Regions from separate parts of the Homo sapiens genome. Here regions 1, 2, 3, 4 and 6 are each linked to region 5. Evidence: fine-mapped expression QTL. A gene starts in region 5. Each other region holds a variant in brackets. All regions are shown on one strand. Distances are from middle to middle.

Region 1 (4,089 bases), 54 kb before region 5:
AGTTTTAGCTTCTCGAAGTTTCTGAAGTTTTAATAATCCAGGCATTTTCCTTTTTTTTTTTCCTATCAGTCCTAGGAGTTGGTAGGTGTTTCCCACAATTGCTACCTTCATGGAACTTTAAAGCTCATTTACTTTCAGGTTAACAACTTTATACCTAGTTTAAAATTCCTTCTACTATATTCTCTCTGTTCAAATAATTAACATGGCTTCTGTCTTCTGACTAAGAAAAATGGCTAGCATCCTAATAGATCTGTGGTTCTCAAGGCATGATCCAGGAACCAGCAGTGTAAGCATCACCTGGGAACTTGCTAGAAATACAAATTATCAAGCCCTGCATCAAACCTCTGAGTCAGAAATTGGAGGTGGTTCCAGCAATCTGAGCTTTATTTTTTTTTTCTGTTAAGACCATCATTTGGAAAAATCTGAGCTTTAACAAGACCTCCAGGTGATTCGGATACACACTAAAGTGTGAGAACCACTGTAATAGACTAAGTGAGGACAATGAGCCATAGTAGTGCCAATCCAATGAAATGGTCCAATCCCAAAATTGGAAAATTATGAGCTTCTCAAGGGTGCAAGCCCTCTTTTTTCATTTAAGCCCCTGTAAACCCAAAGTCTAATGTATTAATTCAAGAAACATTTTGAGTACTAAATGAGCTTGGCTTTCAATGATGGAAGGAAAGGAAGGAAAGAAAGGAAGGAAGGGAGGGAGAGAGGGAAGGAGGGAGGGAGAAAAGGAAGGGAGGGAGAGAGGGAGGGAGGGAGGGAGAAAAGGAAGGGAGGGAGGAAGGGAAAAAAGGGAGAGAAAGAAGGAAGGAAGGAAGGTAGCTAGGTAGGTTAGTTTGGTTACACTGGTCTGTGCTTTCAGAACTATCCCAGACTTTTAAAAGTCCGTATTTTCCTCATTTCTTCCAACAGTGGCCAAGAAACAATATGCACATGGGAGTGCACAAAAACGAGCCAAGTTTCTGTGGGTGGCAAAGGGAGGAAGAAAGCGGGAAAACAAAAAATGAATGTCTCTTTTGTTCTCATGTACTTTTCTTTCTTCACTTTCTTAGTTCCCTGCAATTCCCCCTCTTGTGATCTGCTTTTTCCTGACACATAGAGAATCACACTTAAACAGACATGAATTCTACACTCCCAGGAGTGTGCATGTCTGTGCACAGGCACACACACCGCCGAACACCCAAAGTAACTTCTCTTCCCACACTTTTCCCATCAGCCTTCTGACCCAAGAGAGCAACGGGCCTCACTCTATAGTCAGCTGTCCCTCTCTGCAGCTTCTTTTTCCTAGTGGATACTTTCTATTGCTTACCACTTACAAAGTCAAGGTTCTGTTAAGACAATGCAGATTGGCTTCAGGTATATTACCGGTCAGATAAAATCCTATGTTTTACCCTCTAATTTGGAATTCACTCTCTTTCCTTCCAAAATCTACATACCAAGTAGAAAACAGGTGACTAGAAAGAAAATAGCCACCATTTATTGAGCACTTACTATATGCAGGGCTATATATTAAAAGCTTTATAAGATTACCATATCTTTGGTTAAGTTTACTCTTAGGAATTTTTTTGAGTACTATAAGTGAGATTGTATTCTTAATTTCTTTTTCAGATCGATTGTTGTTAGTGTATAGAAGTGCTACTGATTTTTGTATTTTTTTTAAGAGACAGAAGTCTTGCTATGCTACCCAGCCTGCTCTCAAACTCCTGGGTTCAAGCGATCCTCCCACATCAGCCTCCCTAGTAGCTGAGACTACAGGCACACGCCACCATGCCCAGCTT[G/T]TATGTTGACTTTATATCCTTCAAATTTACTAACTTCATCTATCAGTTCTAAGAGTTTTCTGGTAGAGTCTTTAGGTTTTTCTAAATACAATCCAACAATAATACTCCTTGGAATTTACCTAAGCAAATTGAAAACTTATGTCTACACAAAAACCTGCACAAAGATACTTATAGCAGCTTTATTCATAATTACCAAACCTTGGAAGCAACCAAGATGTCCTTCAGAAGATGAATGGATAAATAAACTGTGGTATATCCAAACAATGGAATATTGTTCAGTGCTGAGAAAGAGATTGGCTTTTGAGCCTTGAAATGACATGGAAGAAACTTAAATGTATATTAAGTGAAAGAAGTCAATCTGAAAGGGCTACATACAGTTTGATTCCAACTATATGACATTCTGAAAAAGGTGCAAGTATGGACACAGTAAAATGGTTGCCATACTTGGGAGTGAGAGGGATGAATAGGCAGAGAGCAGAGAATGTTTAGGGTAGTGAAACTACTCTGTATGATACTATAATGTTGGACACATGTCTCTACACATTTGTCAAAACCCATAGAATGTACAGCACCAAGAGTGAACTCTAATGTAAACTACGGACTTTGGGCAATGGTGATGTTTCAATGTAGGTTTATCAATTGTACCAAATGGTGCAGAACATCGATAGTGGGAGAGGTTGTGTGTGCGTGTGTGCAGTGGGACAGTGCATATATAGGAAGCATGTGCATCCCACTTATCTTTGCTGTGAACCTAAAACTGCCCTAAAAATAAGATTTTTAATTTTTAAAAAATTTAACTCTATGAAGTAAGCAAAATTGTATCAATTTTAAAATATGAAGAAATAGAGAATGAAAGAGATTGAGTAATTTACCTAAGATACAACTTAGGTAAATTGTAAGGAAATTGTAAAGGTAGGTTGTAAGGAAAAAGGATTCAACCTTCAGCAGTCATTTCCAGAATTTGCACTCTTAACTACCACAGAAGAAGAAATCTCAGAATTATAGAGTATTGAAGGTATAATTATAGAGTATTGAAGTATAAGATACCTTCATAAGATTGAAGGTATCTTAAACATTATCTAGACCGGTGGCTTTCAACCTTGGGTGCACATTAGCATTGAGGGTAGTATTTTTAAGATCCAGAAGACCAGGTCACAACATGGACCAATTAAATAATAATCTCGGGAGATGTGACCCACATGTGTGTATTTATTGAAGCATCATGGTGATTCCGATGTAGAGGAAATGTTGAGATTCACAGATTCAAAGAATAACGAAAGGCTTCCACCCACCGTGGGGCAAAAGTGCAATGCATTTTGGTTCTACTTCAAAGAATTAGTTTTTAAATCATACATGTCCAAGATTGATAGGAAGAGGTATAATTGTTTTCCTTTGACTTCTTCTTTTTTTTTTTTTTTTTTTTTTTTAGAGATGGGGCCTCACTATGTTGCCCAGGCTGGTCCTGAACTCCTGGGCTCAAGAAAACCTCCTGCCTCAGCCTCCAAAATTGCTGAGATTACACCACACACAGCCTCCTTTGAATTTTTAAGGTTTGGTGTGGTACCCAGAAAAGAGCAGGGTTAGTGGTCATATAATCTAGAATCACCTCTGACACTTATTAACCATAATCTTGGAACACTTAACCTCTCTAGAGCCTCAATTTCCTTATCAGCAAAACTAGACTACAAATAGTCCATGTATACCTTATTGACTTCCCAGTAGTTCTAAAAATCAAAGAAGACAGTGTATATTTTCAAATTTTCTTTTTCACCTGAGGAATAACACCGTGTTGGTTTTTAGTAGGTAGTGAACTTAAAGGGCACACGGTACAGGGTCTGAATCTCATTCTTGATATTCATTGACTGTTCTCAGAGAAGTTACAGAAACTTTGTGAAAGAGTACACCCATCGACAATATACACAAAGCAAAATCAATAATTTCTTGATTCTTTGGGAATTAAACACTTTGCACAGTAAATGGCACCTAAAAGTTATTCAAAAGTGTGATGTTCCCTTCCCACAGCCACTTAAATGTCTTATTTATTCCATCAGATATTTTAAATTAAAGCATACCAGGAAAAATTAATGATTACCTAACATCATTATTCACTTTGATTAAGAGTGGGTTGTCCAAAAAGAGTCTTGAACAAATACAAAGGCATCCCTTGTTCTTGGTTAGGACATCAATATGCCAGTTCTAAATGAACTTATCAATTTAATGAGAGGTCAGTAAAATGCCAGGAAGTTATTTTATTGAGCTAAACAAATTGATCCTAAAATTCACATGGGAGTTAAAAAAAAAAACA
Region 2 (4,089 bases), 46 kb after region 5:
GAATTTATTTATTCTCTTTTTATTCCAATTTATTAATTAATACTCAAATATTAATGTAAAACTAGGTTGGTTTCATATTGTTCTGGTACTGTATTGTCTTATTTTTTATTATCTGATATCTGAATCAGAAAATAACCTAGTTACATATTATTTAGTCTCTGAGTGTATTTTTTTTTTTTTTTTGAGACGGAGTCTCGCTCTGTCACCAGGCTGGAGTGCAATGGCATGATCTCGGCTCACCAGAACCTCTGCCTCCCGCGTACAAGCGATTCTCCTGCCTCAGCCTCCTGAGTAGCTGGGATTACAGGTGCCCGCCACCAAGCCTGGCTAATTTTTGTATTTTCAGTAGGACGGGGTTTCTCCATATTGGTCAGGCTGGTCTCAAACTCTCAACCTCAGGTGATCTGTCTGCCTTGGCCTCCCAAAGTGCTGGGATTACAGGTGTGAGGTATTATTTTTTAAGTAGGAGTATTTGGACCTAAACAGGCAGAATTCTTCAACAAAGTACAATGAAAGGCATTTCTTTGACAGTAGCCTGAATTTGGAGGCTCATTTGCAAAGGCACTTTCCACTGCCACTCTACCCCAGAAATTGCTTATGAAATAATTCTGGCATTTACTCCTTCTTCCTCCCCTCCCCCTTTTATTAAAGAGACTAGCTTGTACAAAGTCATTTGCAAATTCATTTGTGGTTCTCCATTTTGATTCAGATAGCAACTCTAAAGACTGAGTTATAAAAGTCTTTAGACTTTGCAGTTTAAAAGAACGATAATATTACCATGTAAAAATTCTGATTAGCATAAAGCTTTAGAAAGTCCGTTGCGTATACCAAGCCAAGTGCATTTTTGTCTCCAATTCCCAATTCTAATCAATTTCGTCCTCATTTTTCACTATTGCAAAAGTGTAGATCATGATGCCCATCTTTTTTGTAGTCGAGTACATTTTTTCTTCCATCAAAAAAGCAATTAGTGTCCTGATGTACTTCAGCTTCACACATTTCTGTAGATGATTTGATCAGGTTGTTGTCTTCACGACAGACATCTGATTGTTTTTGAATGTGGGAACACTCCTTAGACAACATGGCCAGAATTAACCCACATCCTCACTGGTGTTCCACACCTTCTCATATGTAGGAGAGGAATTTCTCTGTCATTTCCCTGAGACTGCACCTTAATTCTCTACTATAATCCTTGACTGAAGGAAAAGTTAGGCGATCAGGTGGAATTTTTAAATTGTTCCACAAAAAACTGAGTTCTGCTAGCTAAGTGGAATGTTGAGAATTTAGAACATTCAGCACAATAAAATATAAACATTAAATTTGTATGGCATTAGAACCGCCTTTAGAATTTTTAGTGGAAGCGTTAGATCACATGCATTTCACTTTAGTTAATTTCTGTAAATTCAACTATGTATAGTCTTCTTTACGAAAAGGAGAGAACATACTTGAGAAATATAATTTAAGAGTGCAAGTGAGAGTCATTCAGCCATTCCTTTTATTCTGATCAGTGAATGTGTGTCCCTGAGTGAGAGATGGAAGAAGTCCTTTTAGTTCTTGATTGCATTTCATAGTGTGAATAGCTCCCTTCCCTGACAGTGATTTTTAGTCTTTCCTAAACTTAGTCAGCTACTTCATCTGTTATTCAGCCGAATGAACAGTGAGTGATCTGTTGCAGTGCTAGAGGAACATTGGCTGTTTTGGCCTTATTGAAGAATACTTGACCGACTGATTTAAGAGCTATTCAAAGGTAATTTTGAGTATGCAATTTTTGCCTTTTGCAACTACCTTAGGACCTTATTCTGGCCGGGTGCAGTGGCTCATGCCTGTAATTCTAGCACTTTGAGAGGCTGACGTGGGAGGATTGCTTGAGCCCAGGAGTTTGAGACCAGCCTGGGCAACATGGCGAAACCTTGTCTCTCCAAAAAATACAAAAATTAGCTGGGCATGGTGGCACACACCTGTAGTCCCAGCTACTTGGGAGGTTGAGGTAGGAGGATTGCTTTGAGCCTGGGAGGCGGAAGTTTCAGTGAGCCGAGATTGCACCACCACACCCCAGCCTGGGCAACAGAGCAAGACCCTGTCT[C/CA]AAAAAAAAAAAAAAGAACCTAATTCTGGAGTAAGATATGACTTTACCATAATTTGTGAATTAAGGATTAACAAGGTCAGCAGAGCTGAAGCCAAGTGAAAGCATTTGAGAACAAATGACTGAAAAATACTGGATATATGGTAAGATATGTGTAGAAAAAGAACTCTTTAAGCAATTTTCATTAAAAGCTTCTTAGTATGTTTTCCAGATACTAAAAATTTTGGTCACTGGAAACAATTGGGAAGCAAAGAGATTGATTCAGGATAAACGTAGTTAAATTAGCCAAGATTAGGGATTCCAGTGACCTTGAAAATAAATGTGTAGATTAAAATTCAGGTTATTTTAATTTGATGGCTAAAATAAAATGTGTGTATTAACTCAGATTTTTTTTTTTTTAAATTTTGAGATGGAGTCTTGCTCTTTCGCGCAGACTGGAGTGCAGTGGCATGATCTCGGCTCACTGCAAGCTCTGCTTTCTGGGTTCATGCCATTCTCCTGCCTCAGCCTCCCAAGTAGCTGGGACTACAGGCACCCGCCACCACACCTGGCTAATTTTTTTGTATTTTTAGTAGAGATGGGGTTTCACTGTGTTAGCTAGGATAGTCTCGATCTCCTGACCTCATGATCCGCCTGCCTCTGCCTCCCAAAGTGCTGGGACTACAGGCGTGAGCCACCGCATCCGGCCTAACAGAATTTTAAGAATACATATTCTTGAATGATTGCAGAGTAGGTGGTAAGTTATATGCCAGACACTGATCTAAGTGGTTTGCCTGTCTTACCCCTTTAATCTAGGAGGGTAGATAGATGCTGTTCTGGGAGCTTTATGGATGCTAGTTCTCAGTAACTCTGAGTAAGGACTGTTGTTACCACAACCTTGCAGGTGAGAAACTGCAATATAGTCACAATTAGAAACTTGCCAAAGTCACAGCCATTAAGTAGATAAGCCATGATTCAGATCAAACCACCTGGCTCCATTTCCTGTACTATTAACCTATCTTCTACGCTGGTCTTTAATTCTCTTTTACATTATTATTGTCTCATCTGTAAAGGTTCAAATGCCTACTCCAGTTCCTTGAAGTGGCTGCTTTGAGGTTTCTGAGACCAGGTCTATACTCAGTAAAATTTTTCTGAATTTGTATTAGAGGTTGTTTTATGAACATGAGATTGGAAAAATGGTGGCATGAACTCACTTCTAACTTCATATCAAACTAGATCACCAGAAAACTATTTAGTCCTATATTTTAGTATTGTTTCCTCATATTCTGTCAATTTTTGTTAGATGCATTTGTATGAAGAATATTTCTGCATCTGCGATGAAACTATTGAATGCATTGTCTCTTATGATACTCTGTTCCCTTTATAAGAATTAATGTGATAAATTATTCAAGAATTTAGTTTCAGAGAAAAGTTTCTTTCCTTATGATATGGCATACTTCCTTCTATCAGTCATTAAGAATTATATATTCTGTTGAGTTTTTCTGTTTGCTTTGGCTGCAAGAAAGCTTGGAGTTATATGTCACTTCAATTATAGTAACTTTATTAGCCTAGGCTTCTGATATGGGTAATTTCTTCTCAGTCCTCTGTGGCAGGAGTATTTATTTATTGGAGACAGAGTCGCACTCTGTCGCCCAGGCTGGCATGCACTAGCACCATTATAGCTCACTGCAACCTTGAATTCCTGGGCTCAAGTGATCCTCCTGCCTCAGCCTCCCAGGTAGCTGGGACTACAGGTGCATGCCATCATGCTTCTAATTAAAAAAAGATTATTTGTAAAGACAGGGTCTTGCTATGTTGCCCACGCTGGTCTCAAACTCCTGGGCTCAGTCCTCCCACCTCTGTCTCCCAAAGCACTGGGATTACTGTGCCTAGCCTGTGACAGGAGCTTTTAATTCATCGTGTGTGTATCAGCTTCAGGGAGCTGATGAACCCTTCTGAAATGATCAGTAAACTTGCTTGTGTGCAAGCTTGTGTGGGAATCTGGGGGAGCATCGTTAGCTTCTCTCAGATTT
Region 3 (4,089 bases), 39 kb before region 5:
TTTAAACATAGCTTTATCTTATGACTCAGCAATTCCACTCCTAGGTGTATACCCAAGAGAAATGAAAGCAAATGCGCATACAAACACCTGTACACAAAGGTTAAGCAGTGTTATTCACAATAGCCAAGAGGTATAAATAGTCCAAACCACCCGTCGACTGACAAATTTAGATAAGCAAATGTGGTACGGACACATAGCGAAATATTATCTGACCATAAAAAGGAGTGGAGTGCTGATAAACACTACAACATGGATAGACCTTGAAAACATTACGGTAAATGAAAGAAGCCAGACCCAAAAGACCACTTACTATATGATTCTGATATGAAATGTCCAGAATGGGGAAATAGAGACAGAAAGATTTGTGGTTGCTTAGAGCTGAAGGGAAAGGGGGACCTACAGGGTATGGGTTTTCTTTTGAGGGGATGAAACTGTTCCAAAGTTTACTGTGGTGATGATTGCACATATTTGTGAATATACTAAAAGTCACTGAATTATACACTGTAAATGGGTGAACTGTACAGTATGTAAACTGTATTTCAATAATGCCATTTTGACAAAATAATATTTAAAAGACAGGTTGGATTTCAACAAGTGTAATCTCAGGCTAGTACATATGAGGCTGGGGAGTTAATGTGACAATAGACATAGTGAGTTGCCTCACTTGTTTTACAAGTACGGCAGAGTCATGTGAGTCTCTAGAGGATGCTGTGGTGTGCAGCCCAGATTTCCCTTTCAGAACTAAACAATCTAGTTCCACAGCTACTGGGAGCACACCTGACAACAGCCCTCCACAGGAATTGCCCTCAGCAGCACAGGGCTACTCACCCAAGACCATGTCCCTCCCCAGCAAGAGCCTCCATCCAGTGACTGGTTGCTGTGAGTGTGTATAGAGGAACTGGACAGCCTTTTTTTTTTTTTTTTAAAGACAGAGTCTCGCTCTGTTGCCCAGGCTGTAGTGCAGTGGTGAGATCACAGCCTCCAGCTCCTAAGTTCAAGCTATCATCCTGCCTCAGCTTCCCATATAGCTGGACTACAGGTGAGTGCCACCACACCCAGCCAACTTTTTTGTACTTTTTTGTAGAGATGAGGTCTCATCCAGTCCGGCCTCAAACTTCTGGCCTCCAGGGATCCTCCCACCTCAGTCTCCCAAAACTCCCACAGGTGTGAGCCATCCTGCCCAGGTTCAGAATAGCTGTGAAAGGCCACTTATGCTTCAAAGCTCACCATGGGTTGTCTGAGGACTTTGCTGCGATCACACTGCAGCTTCACATCTCATCGTACCCACTCCTGGTTCCCTCTCCCGCTTCTTCCCAGAGTCTGCTTTCCATAGAATCCAATCTGCAACGTGGTGCATAGAAGATGGCGCATAAAAGGAACATAACTTTTAAACAGACTAGAAAATTAGATTTGGATTAAACTCTAGAGGACCTTGAATGCCATGTTAATGAATGTGATCTTCAATAGAATATAGGAAAGTAATCATTATAATTATATTTGGGTTAAGCAACCCAAGCAACCAGGTTAAAGAATTACCTAGAATGAGGCAAGATAAAGGACAGAAATACAAGTTAAAAAATCAATCCAAGAGTACAGGCAAAAGGACAAGTTAGTGGAGACCACAGACAGGACTATGGCAATGAGAATGAAGAGGAGGAAAGAAATTGGGAGACATCATAAGAGAATGAACTGGGTTTGATGAATGATGAGGTGAGAGATATTTTAATAGTAAGAAAGAAGATGAAAAAGACTACAAGTTTTCTAGTCTCAGAGTTGGCTAACAATAAGAAGAGTAGCACAGTGATAAGATGTATCAGTCAGGGGCCAGTAAAAAAACAAAAGCCACACCAGTTATTTTAATTGCCAAAAAAGAATATAATATAACCATATTTAGAGAACCACAAGGCAAAAAGGAACAATAAGGTACCATGGGCTGGGTACAATGGCTCACACCTGTAATCCCAGCACTTTGGGAAGCTGAGGTGGGAGGATCATTTGAGGACAGGAGTTTGAGACCAGCCTGGGCAACACAGTGAGACCCTTTTCTAGAAAAAAAATTAAAAATCTAGTAGGACATGATGGCATGCACCTGTAATCCTGGTTACTTGGAAGCCGAGGCAGAAGAATCACTTGAGCCCAGGAGGTCAAGGCCACAGTGAGCCATGATCATGACACTGTAAGACAAAGCAAGACCCTGTCTCTAATTAATAAATAAATAAACATGGTATCATGAAGTAAGCAATAGCAGGAGGCAGCTGCCATCCCTAGGACTGGGGGAACAAAAGGAAGAAACTATAATTATTAAAATATAGAAGTTTAGAGGGACCGAGTGTGGTAGCTCATGCCTATAATCCCAGCACTTCGGGAGGCCAAGGCAGGAGAATTACTTGAGGCCAGGAGTTTGTGAACAGCCTGGACAACATAGTGAGAACTGCTGTCTCCAAAATTTTCAAAAATTAGCTGAGCTTGGTGGCATATGCCTGTAGTCTAAGTTACCTGGGAGGCTGAGGCAGGAGGATCACTTGAGCCCAGGAGGT[G/C]GAAGCTTCAGTGAGCCATGATCCCATGACTACACTCCAGCCTGGGTGACTAAATGAGAACCTGCCTCTCAAAAAAAAAAAAAAAAAAAAAAAGGAAGGAGAAGTAGTAGAGTAGTAGTAGTTTGGTGGAGGAACCCCATAGATCTGGGGACTAGACCTTGAGAAGTAGGTGTTTTCAACTGCTGTTGCTGTTCCTGAGTCTGGTGGTGTCCCATGGGGCTGGAATCCAAGCCTTTGAGGAGGGCACATCGGCCAGTGATGCTGGTATTTGAAGGATGGGGATGGGAAGTACAATAAAGATAGCTTTGCAAGTGTTGGGAAAATTGCAAAATAGGAATTTACCTTTGCAACTAGAACAAAGTGCCTCTGCTGGAGTGAAAGGCACTGCAAGGGTGATGCAGGCAACAAAGAGGAAAAAGCAAGTCCCTTCTCTCTGCTCCAGCTTTATGGTCTCCTTCTGATGTCCCCATTGGCACAATCTCTGTTCCCTTGGGTTAGCTATTTAATGTCCTTAATCCTCAATTTCCTCATCTAGTAAGTGGAAATTCACATTAGTCCTACCTTATATATCATTTCATTGATACATGTAATGTGGCACATAAAGTGAGCTTTTAGTGAACACATTTCTCTAATTATTATTAAAATGGGAAACCTAGGAGGAGAGAAGGAAGTCAGTTATTTTACAGTTCGTTTTTACTCTTTGAAGGGGATGGGGGGCAGGGAAGAGTGAGTTTTCGGGGTCATGTTGAGTTTGAGTATCTTCTAGAATAGCTTTGTTTTATGTGGAAAGAGTTAAAGTGTAATTCTAGACTCAACCAAGAGGTTGATATAACTTTTTCTGAAAATAGCTATGCAGAAACATGAGCAGGGAAATAGGTATGCTCAGGGGTCAGGCGGAAGTTTATGAATCAGAAGACACTAAAGCTGTAGTCCTCAAATTCTAGTATGTATCAGAAGCACCTGGAGAGCTTGTTCAAATACAGATTTCAGGGTCCCACCCCTAGAATTTCTGATTCAGTAGGATGGTGTGGCTTGAAAAGCTGCATTTCCAACAAGCTCCCAGGTGATGCTGATTGCTACTAGTTCAAGCACCACCCTTTGAGCAGCACTGGTCCAGAAAGCTAAGGCCAGAGCTACAGTCATTGGTTAGTCTCCAGACTACATTTAAAAAGGAAGGGGAAGAAAATAATTGTTAAGAATCTACAATGCACCAAAAGTTTTGCATTCTTTAATTTAATGAGCTCAACAACCCTAGGAAGTAGGTGTTGTCATCCAATTTTTCAGATAAGTAAATTGCAACTCAGCAAGGTAAGAAAGTTGCCCAGAGCCACATGATTAGCAGGGTAGTAACACTGGGACTCAGATCCAGATCTGTCCAACTCAAAAGCCTATATTTTCTCCACTGTGTCATGCTGTCAACTTCTCTCGGTAAAGTCAGGAGGGTAATAGGAGGCTTACTGGCTAAGAAAGACCTACAGTTTACAATCAGATTTTAACTACCATCTAGATGGCAACAACTCCCAAATTTATCTTTCCAGGCCAGACCTATCTC
Region 4 (4,089 bases), 33 kb after region 5:
ATACATTTTGAGGTTAACATTCATTTAACATTAAATATTTTCTAAGGGCCAATATGTGATCAGCACTGTGCTGTATACTGGGGATGCAATTATGAACAAGATGGAAGGCATCTCCAGCCTTTGTAGAGCTTATGTTTTAGCTGTGAAGACAGACTGGAACTTGTTTAAAAACAAAACAAAACAGAAAAATTGCCTTTATGATGAGCTGGGGAAGTAAACAGACATCATAATTGCTATGAAGAAAACCAGGGATGAGTTTTAGTGTGGGGTTCTAGTTTTATTTTGGGTTGAGAAAGCTTTTCTAAGGAGGTGAAATCTTAATTGAGAGCAAAAAGTTGTTAGGTACATAAGGTGTGGGGGACCATTAGTATTACAAACTGCATGTGCTGAAGCTCGAAAGCAGATAGCTCTGATGTTCAGGGAGCTAGCTGGAAGAAGTCTGGTGTGGCTGGATTGAGGGGGAGTGGGGAGTGGGCAGGGGAATGCTGTTGTACAAGATGAGGTGGCAGAATGAGGTTGTGGCCAAATCAAGCAGAGTTTGGCTTTTATTAAGATCAGTCTGGTTGCTAGATTGGAGGTGGGTAAAAGAGTAGATGCTGACAGTCATCAGGTGAGAGAGGATGGTGTTATAGATTATGGCAGTAGCAGTGGAGATAGAAAGAGGGTCATTTGAAGTATGTTTTTTGAAGGCAGGTGGACAGGATTTGCTGATGGGTAAATGGCAGAGTTAGGGGGACTGTTAGAACAGAGAAAGAAATCATGGGGTTGGGTTTGAGTCTGTTGGGGAAATGGTGGTGCCTGTTTTGAGATGGGGAAGATTTCTGGGAGATAAGTGGTTTGATGGACAGGATCAAGAGTTCTGTTTTGGATGTGTTAATTCTGAAATGTCTGAGACATCCAAATGGAGATGTCAAGTAGGCAGTTGAACATGAGTTTGGAGCTCAGTGGAGAGCTGGAAATATCAATTTGAATTGTCATCAAAGAAATATTTAAATCTGTAGGAAATGATGAATTTGTGTGTGGAAAGAATATAGACAGACAGTAATACTCAAAACCAAGCCCTCGTAACATTCAGAAATGGGTGAACTAGCAGCTAGCAGAGGAGTCCTAAGGAGTTTGCCATCTAGGGGGTAGGAGGAAAACCAGGAGAGAGGTTTCCATGAAGTTGAGAGAAAAAGAGAGTCCCCTGTTCTTAGTGAGTACATCTAAAATTAATAATTAATGAAATTTTCAAGTGAATACGAAAGTAGAATAAAGTTGTAATTACTTTCTTCACCGGGAAAGTAATAAGTAAATAAAGACTATTTAGTGGCATTGAGATTTCAAGAGTAATTTCTTCAGTAATTTTGCAAGATTATTCATATTACCTACTCAACCAGACTCCATAATTGGGCTCAGGAGGGAAGGCTTTCCCTTAGAGAAGCAGAGTTCTGTTCGTCTGAATGTTGTCCAGTCAGGCTTTGGGACTTAAAAATGCTTTTGAGGATTCTTAGGTCCTTTTTTTTTTTTTTTTGGCCTGTGGACTGAACATAGCTGTTCAGTGTGTATCATTATTTATTGCCTTTCTCTTACTATAGATTATTTCTCACAGGAGAAGAAGTTATTGCTGGTAGCATGTCAGTTTACATGTGTCTAGCTCCCATCTCTGGAACACATAATTAAGTGTGGTCGACATATATTCTTCTTCATTTTTGCCGTTGAGAAAGCTGTCAGAAATGTTACATCTGGAGAACAGGAAAGACTACCCTCAAAGCCAGCGTTGGCCTAAGTGTACTCTTAAACATTTCCTGTGGATGTGTGGACCGCCTGTCTCTCTATCTCTTCATGACTTCTGCCTGTGTCTTGTGTGTGCAGAGGCCAAATAGTAGTAGCAGAGATGGAAAACCTTCTCCTACACATGTGCACCAGCATGGTCCTTTGTCTCTCTCTTTCATTTGCTCTTCAAGGCTTCGCTCAAATACTGCTTCCATTCTGTAATTTTCTCTTCCCAGCGCACCCGTGGGACCTGTTACATTGAGTTAGAGGCAGTATTACACGGTGGTTTCTTTTGGAGAGACTGGCTAGACTACGTATACATAGCCTCTTGGTTAGTTACATACCTTCTCAGTGCCTCAGTTCCTTCATCTGTAAAACCACATGGGGTTGTGTGAGGATTATATGAGTTAATACATGTAAAGCACTCAGAGTAGTGCCTGGCATATAAGGGCTCAAAAATTGTTAGTTGTTGATGCTGTTGTTGCTGTTTATAAGGCTTGCGTGCATTTCTTTTCTTCATTTGTTTTGGGAATGGTGAAGGCATATAATGTATTATTCATTATCTTCTTAATATGTTTCATGTAATAGACAAATATTTTTATGTAGTTACTAAGGCAGATAACTTCTGCATGTCTTATTTTTCTCTAAAATGGTAAGCATACATATA[A/C]GTATCTTGTTACTTGTGTGTGACCCTAGATTGCTTGGTTGTCAGTATCTCTTAATAAAGATTTTCCCTTTCATCTGTTTGTAGAAGCCTCATCAGCTGGGCTGGTATTAGTAAAAGGAAGATGACTAGAAAATTCACTTGGAGATCACATGGACTCTTTTATTATTAAATTAAATAATTCATTTTTCATGTATACAACACTCATTAATTGGGGTTGTGTTTATTGGTGAAAACATTTTTTTCTTAAAATGAAATCTTTAATTTTTTTACATTAATTATACTTAGTATGAGGCACTTTTGCTTCATTCTTACAGGTAGGCGAATTGTAGAGGTCTTACGTCTTTGCTGGGCCTGCCACCATCAATAGTTTAGGAGAATAATAGCTTTTGAAATGTATAAGGCCTTACTTAAACCAAAAAATATGCTTTACAATGCAATTTCTAACAGGGTCTTAATTCATTTGTTAATATTTCTTCAGAACGTGGGCTTAAATTTTGTTTTAAAGTCTTATACAAACTCTTGAGGGGAAATTTTTTTTTAGTGTTTTCCGCTTTAGTTTGTCTTTTTTGATGATGCAGCTCAACAACCATAAATACATTCAGGACTCACAGGTTGACATTTTAATCATTCCATCCACAAGTACTCAGAACTGTGGGGACCTGGAATAAATATGAGATATGGCCTCTTGACTTTAGTTTATAATCTTTATTGTTGAAAAAAGCCTGGTTCCCTTGAAATAGTTAGAGAAAAATATTGGAAAGCATATAGAAGGAAGTGTGGTATAGTAGTAAGATAATTCATCTAGTAGTCTTGTTCATTTATTCACTAAAAGCCTGCTGAGCACTTTCATCTCCTTAGTGTCAAAACCTGAGTTTTGTCACAAGATCCGCCACTGTGAAATTGAGCAAGTACCATTCCTTTACCAGATTTACTCCACCTGCCTTGTAGGATCATACATGATCATGTATATGAAAGCTTCTAGAACACTAAAGCATTGTGCAAATGTAAAGAGTTATATAATGTTACATTGTTCGGGAGAGGCCATGCCTGTGGTAGCAGTTAAAAGGAACAAAACTTTGAGAGTTGAACTAGTTAGGTTGGGTGGGATTTTCCCCTTAAGAAACCATCATCAGTAAAGGCTGTTTTTTAAAAGCTAGTATATAGGATTAATAAAGTACAGGTTGAGTATCTCTTACCTGAGATGCTTGGGACCAAAAGCCTTTTGGATTTCAGAATTTGAATTTTGGAATATTTGCATATTCATAATGAGCGATCTTCAGGATGTGGCCTAAGTCTAAACATGAAATGCATTTATGTTTCTTACACACCTTATACACATAGCCTGAAGGTAGTTTTATTTCTCCCATGGGGACGCTGAATAAACTGTGTATTGTGTGCCTGCGATCTGACTGGGACCTGCCACATGGGGTTAGGTGTGGAGTTTCCCACTTGTGGCATCATGTCAGTGCTGAAAGTTTTTGATTTTGGAGCATTTCAGATTTCAGCTTTTCAGATTAGGAATGTTCAACCTCTAGCCGGAGAAAGAAGATAGTTTTCTATAAGATGGAAAATTTATCCAGTCATGCCTTTTTGGAACATGCGTGAATTTGTTGAGTAACTGAAATGTATACCTTCAGGTTCCTAAATTTAATTTATGTGAGATAAAA
Region 5 (4,089 bases):
AGAGAGACATAATCTAATCTTTGTTTTAAAGGACAGTCGGCTGTGTGTAGGTGTTGGGGAGGGAGGAGGCGGAGAGTGGGAGGTAGAAAGATCAGGTAGGAGATAATTATTGAGAGATGATGCCTTAGACCAGGACATTAGCAGTGGGGAGGGGAGTGAGACGGAGTGGACATTTTCACCATATATTTGTGAAAACAGAGTCAACAGAATTTGCTGACGAATGTGATGCTGAGTGTACAACAGAGAAGGTTCAGACATAGGGAAGTTCTGAGGACAAGGATTTTTTTCTTTTATTCAATGTCATATATCTACCACCTAGACAGTGCCTGGTATCAATAAATATTCCTTGAATAAATGAAAAGGGTAACTGATTTGTATTAAACCCATTTTGAACTTAGTAAATAGCAGTTAAAACATCTACAGTCAAATGAAGTACTGTAGCAACCATAATTTCAGCAATTAAGCAGTGAAAGATCTTCCAATCCTTTCCTCCACAAAGATAGAAGTTAATTTTGCTGCATCCCTGGACACCCCGTTGCCAACGACCCAGCATTCCGTTGGTAAGTGAGGCTGGAGGTTGGAGTGGGAGAAATTTCGTGGAAGCTAAGTTCGCAAAGCAGGTACGTTTTTTTTTTTTTTTTAAACGGTTATTTGGGATGAGGAGTACAACGGAACCTAATGTTCCCTCATGCCACCTACAGCACTGCTACTGTTCCCATATCCTTCAACTGGGCATGAAGGCAGCTTCCCACTCACTCTGACAGTGGTGCACCCTGTACCCCCACCCCTCTCTTCAATACCCCAGGGCTAAACGGCCCGAAGCTCCTCTCTACCGGCTGGTGCGCATTCTGGGCCAGGGCGAGCCAAAAGGCAGAAGGGCCTTCGTGCTGCAGTGTCTGGTGAAGACTCAGGCTTAGCCTGGAAGAAGTTTCCAGGCCAACGTGAAGTTTTCCTGTCTTGGGTACATGCGAGCCCCACGCGTCTGCGAGTTTGGGTTAGTGTGTCAACAGGGTCAGTCCCCGTATCTACTTTGCGAAAGCTTCGAGGCGAGCGTGAAGTCAAGGGCTGCGGTGGATGGGGGTAAAAGGCCTCCTCGTCCCACTGCCTGCACCGTCTTGGGGTAACCCCTAACCCCCAGCCGGCGTTTCCCTTTAATGCGCGTGCCCGGCAAGGTCCTCGCGTCCCCTCCCCTCAAGCCACCCCGTCAGCCTCGGTTTCCCCCACTTCTCCCCGTCCTTGTCGTTCCTTCCCCGTGGGACGCCCCTCGCTCACCCCCGTCAGAGCCCAGTCTGCGCGCGGGACCCAGCTGTCACTTTACTTTTCCTCGCCGCCTCCCCACCCCCTCTCCCGACCGGCGGGGCAGCCCGCCCGGGCGCGCTCCCGCCCCCGCCCCCTCGCGGCCGCGCGCCGGAGGAGGAGGGGCGGGGGGAGGAGGGAGGCGCGCGGCGCCGCATGGCCGACGTGGGGCTCGCGCTCTCGCGGTCTCTCCCGGGCGGGCGCGCAGGCACGCGCACTCGCGGGTGCGCGCGCGGACGGCCGGGCGGCGGCGGCTCCCGGAGGTGGTGGCTTCACTTTCCAGGACTCAGGGGCAGCCACAGCGACAGCCGCGGGCAGCAGCCTCAGGAGCCGGAGCTGGAACGGCCGGGGGCGGCGGCAGCGGCGGCGCTGAGGGTGAGTCCGGGCGGGCGCGAGCGCGGCGGGGACAGGCGTGGTCGGGTGCGTGGTGCGTGGGTCCGGCTTTCGGTGACTAGACGGTCCGCAGGGGACATCCCGTCCCTGGGGCCTCCCCAGTCTCCCTCCCCCTCGCGCCTGGGCAGCTCTCTCCCAGGGCTTCGGCTCGAGCCTGCGACCTGCACGGACACCCCCCCCTCAGGTATTCGCTCGGGCCGCGCCGGTGCCTCCCCTCCTCGGGCGTCCTCCCTCTCGCTGACGTCCTCCTCACTCCCCCGACCTCCCCTCCGCGTCGCAGGTCTCTGCTTACACCGCTCGTGCCCTAGTTCCCTCCTTCCTCGCTCCCCGTGCCCGGTTCCCTACGCCCCCTCCCGCGAGCCTCCTGCCCCCGTTTCTCGCCCTTTCTACCCCTCCCCCTTCTTCCCATCCCCCCCTTCTGCCTCTTCTCTCCCTGTCCTCCTTCTACCCCCTTCCGTTCTCAGTTCCCCATCCTTCTCAACCCTCCCAGCGCTTTCCTTCTCCTAGCCGCATCCTGGAACTAAGTCTTTTCAAAAGTACAGGATAAATGTCACGGTGGAAAGTGCCCGGCTTGATCTTTTGCTATTTTCCCTAATTGCATAATTGCTGCACATGGTGTGTCTCCTGGCGAGTGCCGGGTTTGGCTCCTTCGCCGCCGCACCCCGGTGGCCCGCCCGGAGAAGACCTTGTGGGGTATATTTGTGTGTGTCCTGGTGAGGGGTGTGTGTTGTATTGGTCTTTTGTGATGCCTGGCGCTTGTCACAGTTTGGAACCGAAGCCCATTTTTCTCTGGTCTCTTCTCTGCAGCCCCCACTGGCCTGGTTTGAAACTGGATTCCCTCTGTCCTCTCCCCCTTCCCGCCCACCCCACTTCTCCCCCTCTTTTCTCCGATCTCTCTCATAATGTTTTGATCTTTTTGCCCTTTACCATTTCTAATGAAGATAAAGCGTGGCTTCTTGTGGCTTTTTTCCCCCACGACCAACCAGAAATGTCCAATCCATCTTCCCTTAAGGAAATTAAGGCTGCTTTAGAAAGACATCATCCTGTGCTCGGTGGCTGTTAGACCCATTTGCATGTTTTCAAGATTCATCGTTTTGTATTGTGTATTCTTGAGAGTCTACTAAAATATTTTTATTTAAAAGTACGAAAGGAAGTGCTAGGGTTTACCCTCAAAGTATCTCGCGGTTCTAAAGGATTTTACGCTCTTCTTAGTTTTTAATCCCTGATTTCTTTAAAAAGTATGTTTCTAGATATGTGATAATTCAGTCTGGACTTTGTGAATCTAAATATTTGCCTTTACTACGGCAATTTGGATGCTCCTTGGCTCTTTGGAATTCTGTATGTGGGCTGACGCTGAAATAGAGTGTTTTCATATAATGCCATACCCCATTCTCTTTCCCCTGCAGCACCTTTTACCCCCAAATCAGGTGTTCCACTGTTATTTTCTGCATAAATGTCTTTGCAGTTAAATTTAAAGCTGGATATTGCTGTGTGCATATACTATATATTTATTTTACATTTTAGAAAAGTTTAGAAACATGAGTAGGAAGACAGCAAGACATATATGACAGAATTAAACGCTTTCCTGTTATAAAAGCTTAAATGAACACTTGGTTTTGCAGTTTTATACTAGTAGATACTGTTATAAGGCTTACCTGGGTAGTAGGCTGGATTTATGGAATGACTATAGTTGCCTTTATGTAGTCAGTAATATTTCAAGCCAAATCATTTCATTTTTATGGAACATGTGAGTTTCATTCACTGTATGTTGCTAATTTCCAGGACTGTAATTACAACATAGGGTACATAGCTAATACAAGCTTAGACAGTTTGTGTTGAAGAAGTAACAATATGTAAGCCTCTTAATATAGTTTTAGGAAGGACTACTTATTTTATGGTTAAAAATTAAATTTTACTTTGAGTTATGAAGTAAGCGTATTTATCTCTCTCAATATCTTTGAAAGTATCATTGGAGAGTAGCTGTTTGTTTATAACCCTGGGATTTAAGTTTATCTTCCCTGTAGATGAGATAATCGGATCAGATTAGCTATTTAGGAATTAATTTTAAAATGCTAATTTAGAAGATAATGTTTAAAGGATTTTAATTCAGGAATTTTTATTCATTTGTACTTCAGAGAGACAAGACATCAAGTTTACACTTACGACTAATTAAATTGATTCATAGACTACTTTTTCTTCATAAAAATTCGTTGCACCTGAGTGGTACAATAATTTTTTTCTATACTTTTTCTGTAATCAAGCATTCAAAAAACAAACCCAGGAGAAATTCCTTTTATTATTGATATTTGAAAAAGAGATGTGAAAACTTTATTTCTAAAAGTTCCTATAGTGGTTATCAATGGCCTCAGATGGACTTATCATTTGTAGGTTAACATTTGG
Region 6 (4,089 bases), 95 kb before region 5:
AGATCCTACTTTCCACTCCTTTGATGTCAGTCAGGATTAGCCAGTGACTTCAAGCTGAAGCCTTAAGAGCCAGTATTTGCTTCACGATAATCTCTTTACCCAGGCATCAGCCAGCAATGTTCCAGATAGGAGCTGCTAGGTCAGCCTGGTCCTAAAGAGATCATCAAGGACAGCCACAGCTCACCCACTATAGGCCTGTAGCATAAGCATGAAATAAACCCTGGTTGTAAATCACTGAGATATGGGGGTAATTTGTTACTTAAGAATAACAGCCTAAGCTGACAGTTAGAATCAGACTGATAGAATTTAATTCTCAACTGAGACTCAAAGAAGTTATGTTTTCCATGCTTAAGGGCACCCAAAAAAATAAGCTGATATTCTTTCCCCCTTCCTGGACTGTCTGTGATGTTACCTTTTGGGCCTTCATTTCCTCATCTATATATTGAAAGAGTTGGAATAAATAATCTCTAAAGTTCCTTCCACCCCTAACATTCTATATTCATCTGATTCCTCCTTTCATAGACTCTAGCTTTGCAAAAATTGCTTGGGTAACATGTGCTACTGTTAGTAGTTATATTAGATATATTCTCTTGGACAAGATCCAAAATATTTGCATATTATAAAAAATTCCACAACTATTACAGCAAAGTTCTAGAGCATACTGATTTGCACTGTTTGATACTTTACTTTGTAAATATGTTACTCAGTTTTTTAACATATTTGCATACCATATTTCTGATTAAATTGCAGGATCCTTTGTAAGAAAAAGGTTTTTTCTTTCTTTTACCTTATTTCTTACCATGCCTTAGCATGTTTTAATAGGTGCTTAATGAATGTGCCTCTTCACCAATCAATCTTTTAATTAAAAAATAGAAAACAGGCCACAGTGGCTCATGCCTGTAATCCCAGCATTTTGGGAGGCTGAGGCGGGTGGATCACCTGAGGTTGGGGGTTCGAGATCAGCCTGACCAACATGGAGAAACCCTGTCTCTACTAAAAATACAAAATTAGCCAGGCTTGGTGGCGCACGCCTGTAACCCCAGCTACTCGGGAGGCTGAGGCAGGAGAATCACTTAAACTCGGGAGGAGGAGGTTGCAGTGAGCCAAGATCGTGTCATTGCACTCCAGCCTGGGCAACAAGTGTGAAATTCCATCTCAAAAAAAAAAAATAGAAAACATTTTTGACAAAAGAATAAAACATTGATTGTAAAGATTTTAAAGATGGCAATAAATTTATTTGATATTCCTATTAAGAGGTGGGGTCTAATTCCCCTCTTGTTGAATCTGGGCTGACCTTAGTGACTCACTTGCAAGCAAGAGAATGCAACAAAAGTGATGTTGCATGATTTCTGAGACTAGGTCAGAAAGAATCCTGCAGCTGCCACCTTGTTCATTGGAACACTCACTCTTGGAGCCCAAATATAAAAAGTGCAACTATCCTAACCCACCATGCTATGAGGAAGCCCAAGCCACAGAAGGAGGCCACATGCCAGGCACTCCAGTGGACAGTTCCAGTGGAGCCTGGTTTTCAGGTCATCCCAGCCTAAAAACCAGACACATGATTGAAGAAGCCTCTAGATGATTCTAGCGCTCAGCTATTAACATCACCCCCCACACCCCTATTGTTTGAGTCTTCCTAGCAGAGGTCTCAATCCCATAAAGCAGAGACAAGCAATCCTTTCTCTGCCCTGTATAAACCCCTGACCCATAATATCCATGAATATAATAAAGTGGCTGTTGTTTTACGCCACTAAATTTTGGGAGTGCTTATGCAGCAGTAGATAACTAGAGCATATGTTATCTGTAAAAGTCAGCCTAAGCCACAGTGTTAGCCCAGACAAACACAAAGAAGTGTGTGCAACCACATGTTTCCTGCTTTGTTTATTCTTATTAGGGTATAACAACCTACTGGGGTAAATACCTCCCTAGCAAGAGCAATCTGGAAGATAGGAGTATTAAAACATCAGGCAGAGATACAATCGAATTATTATCAAGCAATTGCGAC[C/A]TAAAAAGAGTAGGCACTGATTGAATCTCAGCACTTATTACTTCACCTTGCAATTGCAACATAACAAAAACACCAGTCACAGATGCAATCACAAAGACAAGTGGAATCAATACTGACTCTAAAATACATTACAGGCCATTTTTAAATAAATATGTAAAATCTGCTGTAAATTGATTCTAGCTCAGTGTAACAAACTGCTGTAACAAGTTTTACATACAAAGCCTAGAGAAAAGAACAGGGAGGAGCAACCTGAAGCATGCACAGCTTAGAGTGAAGATGTTCTTCCACTTAAACTTCTTGCTCCATGACATGTGGTTGTTCTTTACACTCAACAACAAATTTCACCTTATGGATCTCAAAAGCTCTGCTCCGGGAGAGGACCAACATGTTCAAACAATAACAGCTAGAGAGTTAAAAATAAAGACAAGTGCTCTTTAATCTCAATTCAGTTTCCTAAGAAATCTGTACAGAGGGAGCAATAAACAGTGTTAAGGTTTTTTTTGTTTGTTTGGGCTTGTTTTCAGAGCCAGGTATCATGTTAGTTTATGTGCACTTAACATAGGCTTAATGATATATCTGTGCAGTGTACTTCTCTAGGCACTATGGAGATCAAAAATATGAAAAGCATAGCCCTGGCCAGACATGGTGGCTCACGCCTTGTAATCCCAGCATTTTGGGAGGCCAAAGTGGGTGGATTGCTTGAGCCCAGGAGTTCAAGACCAGCCTGGGCAACATGACAAAACCACATCTCTACAGAAAATACAAAAAACTAGCTGGGTGTGGTGGTGCACGCTTGTAGTCCCAGTTACATGGGAGACTGAGGTGGGAGAATCACCTGAGCCCAGGAAGTCGAGGCTGTAGTGAGCTGTGATTGTACCACTGCACTCCAGCCTGGGTGACAGAATGAGACCCTGTCTCAAAACAATTAAAAAGACAAGAAAAGAAAAGCCTATTCCTTGCCCTCAAAGAGTTACTGTATTAGTGAGGGAGAGATAGGTAGGTCTAAAAGTATTGATTGTACAAAGTAGAAGGTGTTAAGAGCCGAAAGCAAGACCTATTTACTAAACAGAAATGTATATCAAAAAGCTTGGATTTAGGCTGGGCACAGTGGCTCACACCTGTAATACCAGCACTTTGGGAGGCTGAAGTGGGAGGCTCCCTTGAGACCAAGAGTTTGAGACCAGTCTGAACAACACAGCAAGATCCCCATAGCTATTTAAAAAAAAAAAAAAAAAAAACACTTGAATTTGACTTGGACGTTAAGTAATCTAAGTAATACCCTGATATTTTAAATCCATTACTATAAATTCATACATATATACCCCCACTTTCATGCTTCCCTTCTAAAATGGCAGCCTCCTTAGACAAAATAACTTTTGACTACATGTTTTCTTTAAAAAATCCTTCACTATGTCTTTCAAGTACGCTGCCACATAGCAGTCCTCAATATATATTTGTGGAATTAATGAATACAATGTATTTGATGTAAGGTCTGCCACTAGAGAGTAGCAGCTCAAGAGAATTTGGTTCTTAGTGTCCCAGGCTCTTTTTGCTTACATCTGTGGTGTCTGTTGCTTTTGCTCTCATCCCACTTTTAAAAGCTGCTGATATGGTTTTAATGAAACTTGAAGTATTACCTCAAAAATTTTGCATTTTGAGCTTTATCATGAATTTTGTGATAAAAAGGTTTAGTCTTGGCCAGGCGTGGTGGCTCACACCTGTAATCCCAGCACTTTGGGAGGCCGAGGTGGGCGGATCATGAGGTCAGGAGATCGAGACCATCCTGCCCAACATGATGAAATCGCATCTCTACTAAAAATACAAAAATTAGCTGTGTGTGGTGGCACGTGCCTGTAATCTCAGCTACTCAGGAGGCTGAGGCACGAGAATCGCTTGAACCCAGGAGGCAGAGGTTGCAGTGAGCCGAGATCGCGCCACTGCACCCCAGCCTGCCAACAGAGCAAGACTCCATCTCAAAAAAAAAAAAAAAAGAAGAAAGAAAAGAAAGAAAAAAAAAAAGGTTTGCTCCTCTGGGCAAGAAAATGGCCCTTCTCCATGAACTTGAAATCATATAATGGATAGAT

What was found. PIP is the estimated chance that this variant, and not a neighbour inherited with it, causes the effect.
Region 1: its variant is fine-mapped to the expression of UBE2E2 in monocytes (Quach 2016, PIP 0.95).
Region 2: its variant is fine-mapped to the expression of UBE2E2 in monocytes after LPS (Quach 2016, PIP 0.95).
Region 3: its variant is fine-mapped to the expression of UBE2E2 in monocytes after LPS (Quach 2016, PIP 0.95).
Region 4: its variant is fine-mapped to the expression of UBE2E2 in whole blood (INTERVAL, PIP above 0.99).
Region 6: its variant is fine-mapped to the expression of UBE2E2 in sun-exposed skin (GTEx, PIP above 0.99). The same link has a PIP of 0.9 or more in unexposed skin.

The regions. Positions count from the first base shown.
Region 1 is chr3:23,147,823-23,151,911 of GRCh38, forward strand. No RefSeq gene overlaps it. Among named protein-coding and RNA genes, the nearest start is that of UBE2E2-DT, 53 kb to the right of the region's middle. The variant G/T (reference allele first, on the strand shown) is at 1,785.
Region 2 is chr3:23,247,191-23,251,279 of GRCh38, forward strand. All of the region lies in intron 3 of UBE2E2 (ubiquitin conjugating enzyme E2 E2), which reads left to right. Among named protein-coding and RNA genes, the nearest start is that of UBE2E2, 46 kb to the left of the region's middle. The variant C/CA (reference allele first, on the strand shown) is at 2,081.
Region 3 is chr3:23,162,331-23,166,419 of GRCh38, forward strand. No RefSeq gene overlaps it. Among named protein-coding and RNA genes, the nearest start is that of UBE2E2-DT, 39 kb to the right of the region's middle. RefSeq lists an enhancer at 1-8. The variant G/C (reference allele first, on the strand shown) is at 2,538.
Region 4 is chr3:23,234,987-23,239,075 of GRCh38, forward strand. The region is part of intron 3 of UBE2E2 (ubiquitin conjugating enzyme E2 E2); the gene reads left to right. Among named protein-coding and RNA genes, the nearest start is that of UBE2E2, 34 kb to the left of the region's middle. The variant A/C (reference allele first, on the strand shown) is at 2,423.
Region 5 is chr3:23,201,592-23,205,680 of GRCh38, forward strand. It overlaps UBE2E2 (ubiquitin conjugating enzyme E2 E2), which reads left to right and starts at 1,736. Exons shown (of 6, transcript NM_152653.4): 1 at 1,736-1,873. UBE2E2-DT (UBE2E2 divergent transcript) reads right to left here and starts at 1,402. Exons shown (of 2, transcript NR_136176.1): 1 at 1,273-1,402. RefSeq lists enhancers at 409-1,384, 797-856 and a silencer at 1,207-1,896.
Region 6 is chr3:23,106,812-23,110,900 of GRCh38, forward strand. No RefSeq gene overlaps it. Among named protein-coding and RNA genes, the nearest start is that of UBE2E2-DT, 94 kb to the right of the region's middle. The variant C/A (reference allele first, on the strand shown) is at 2,006.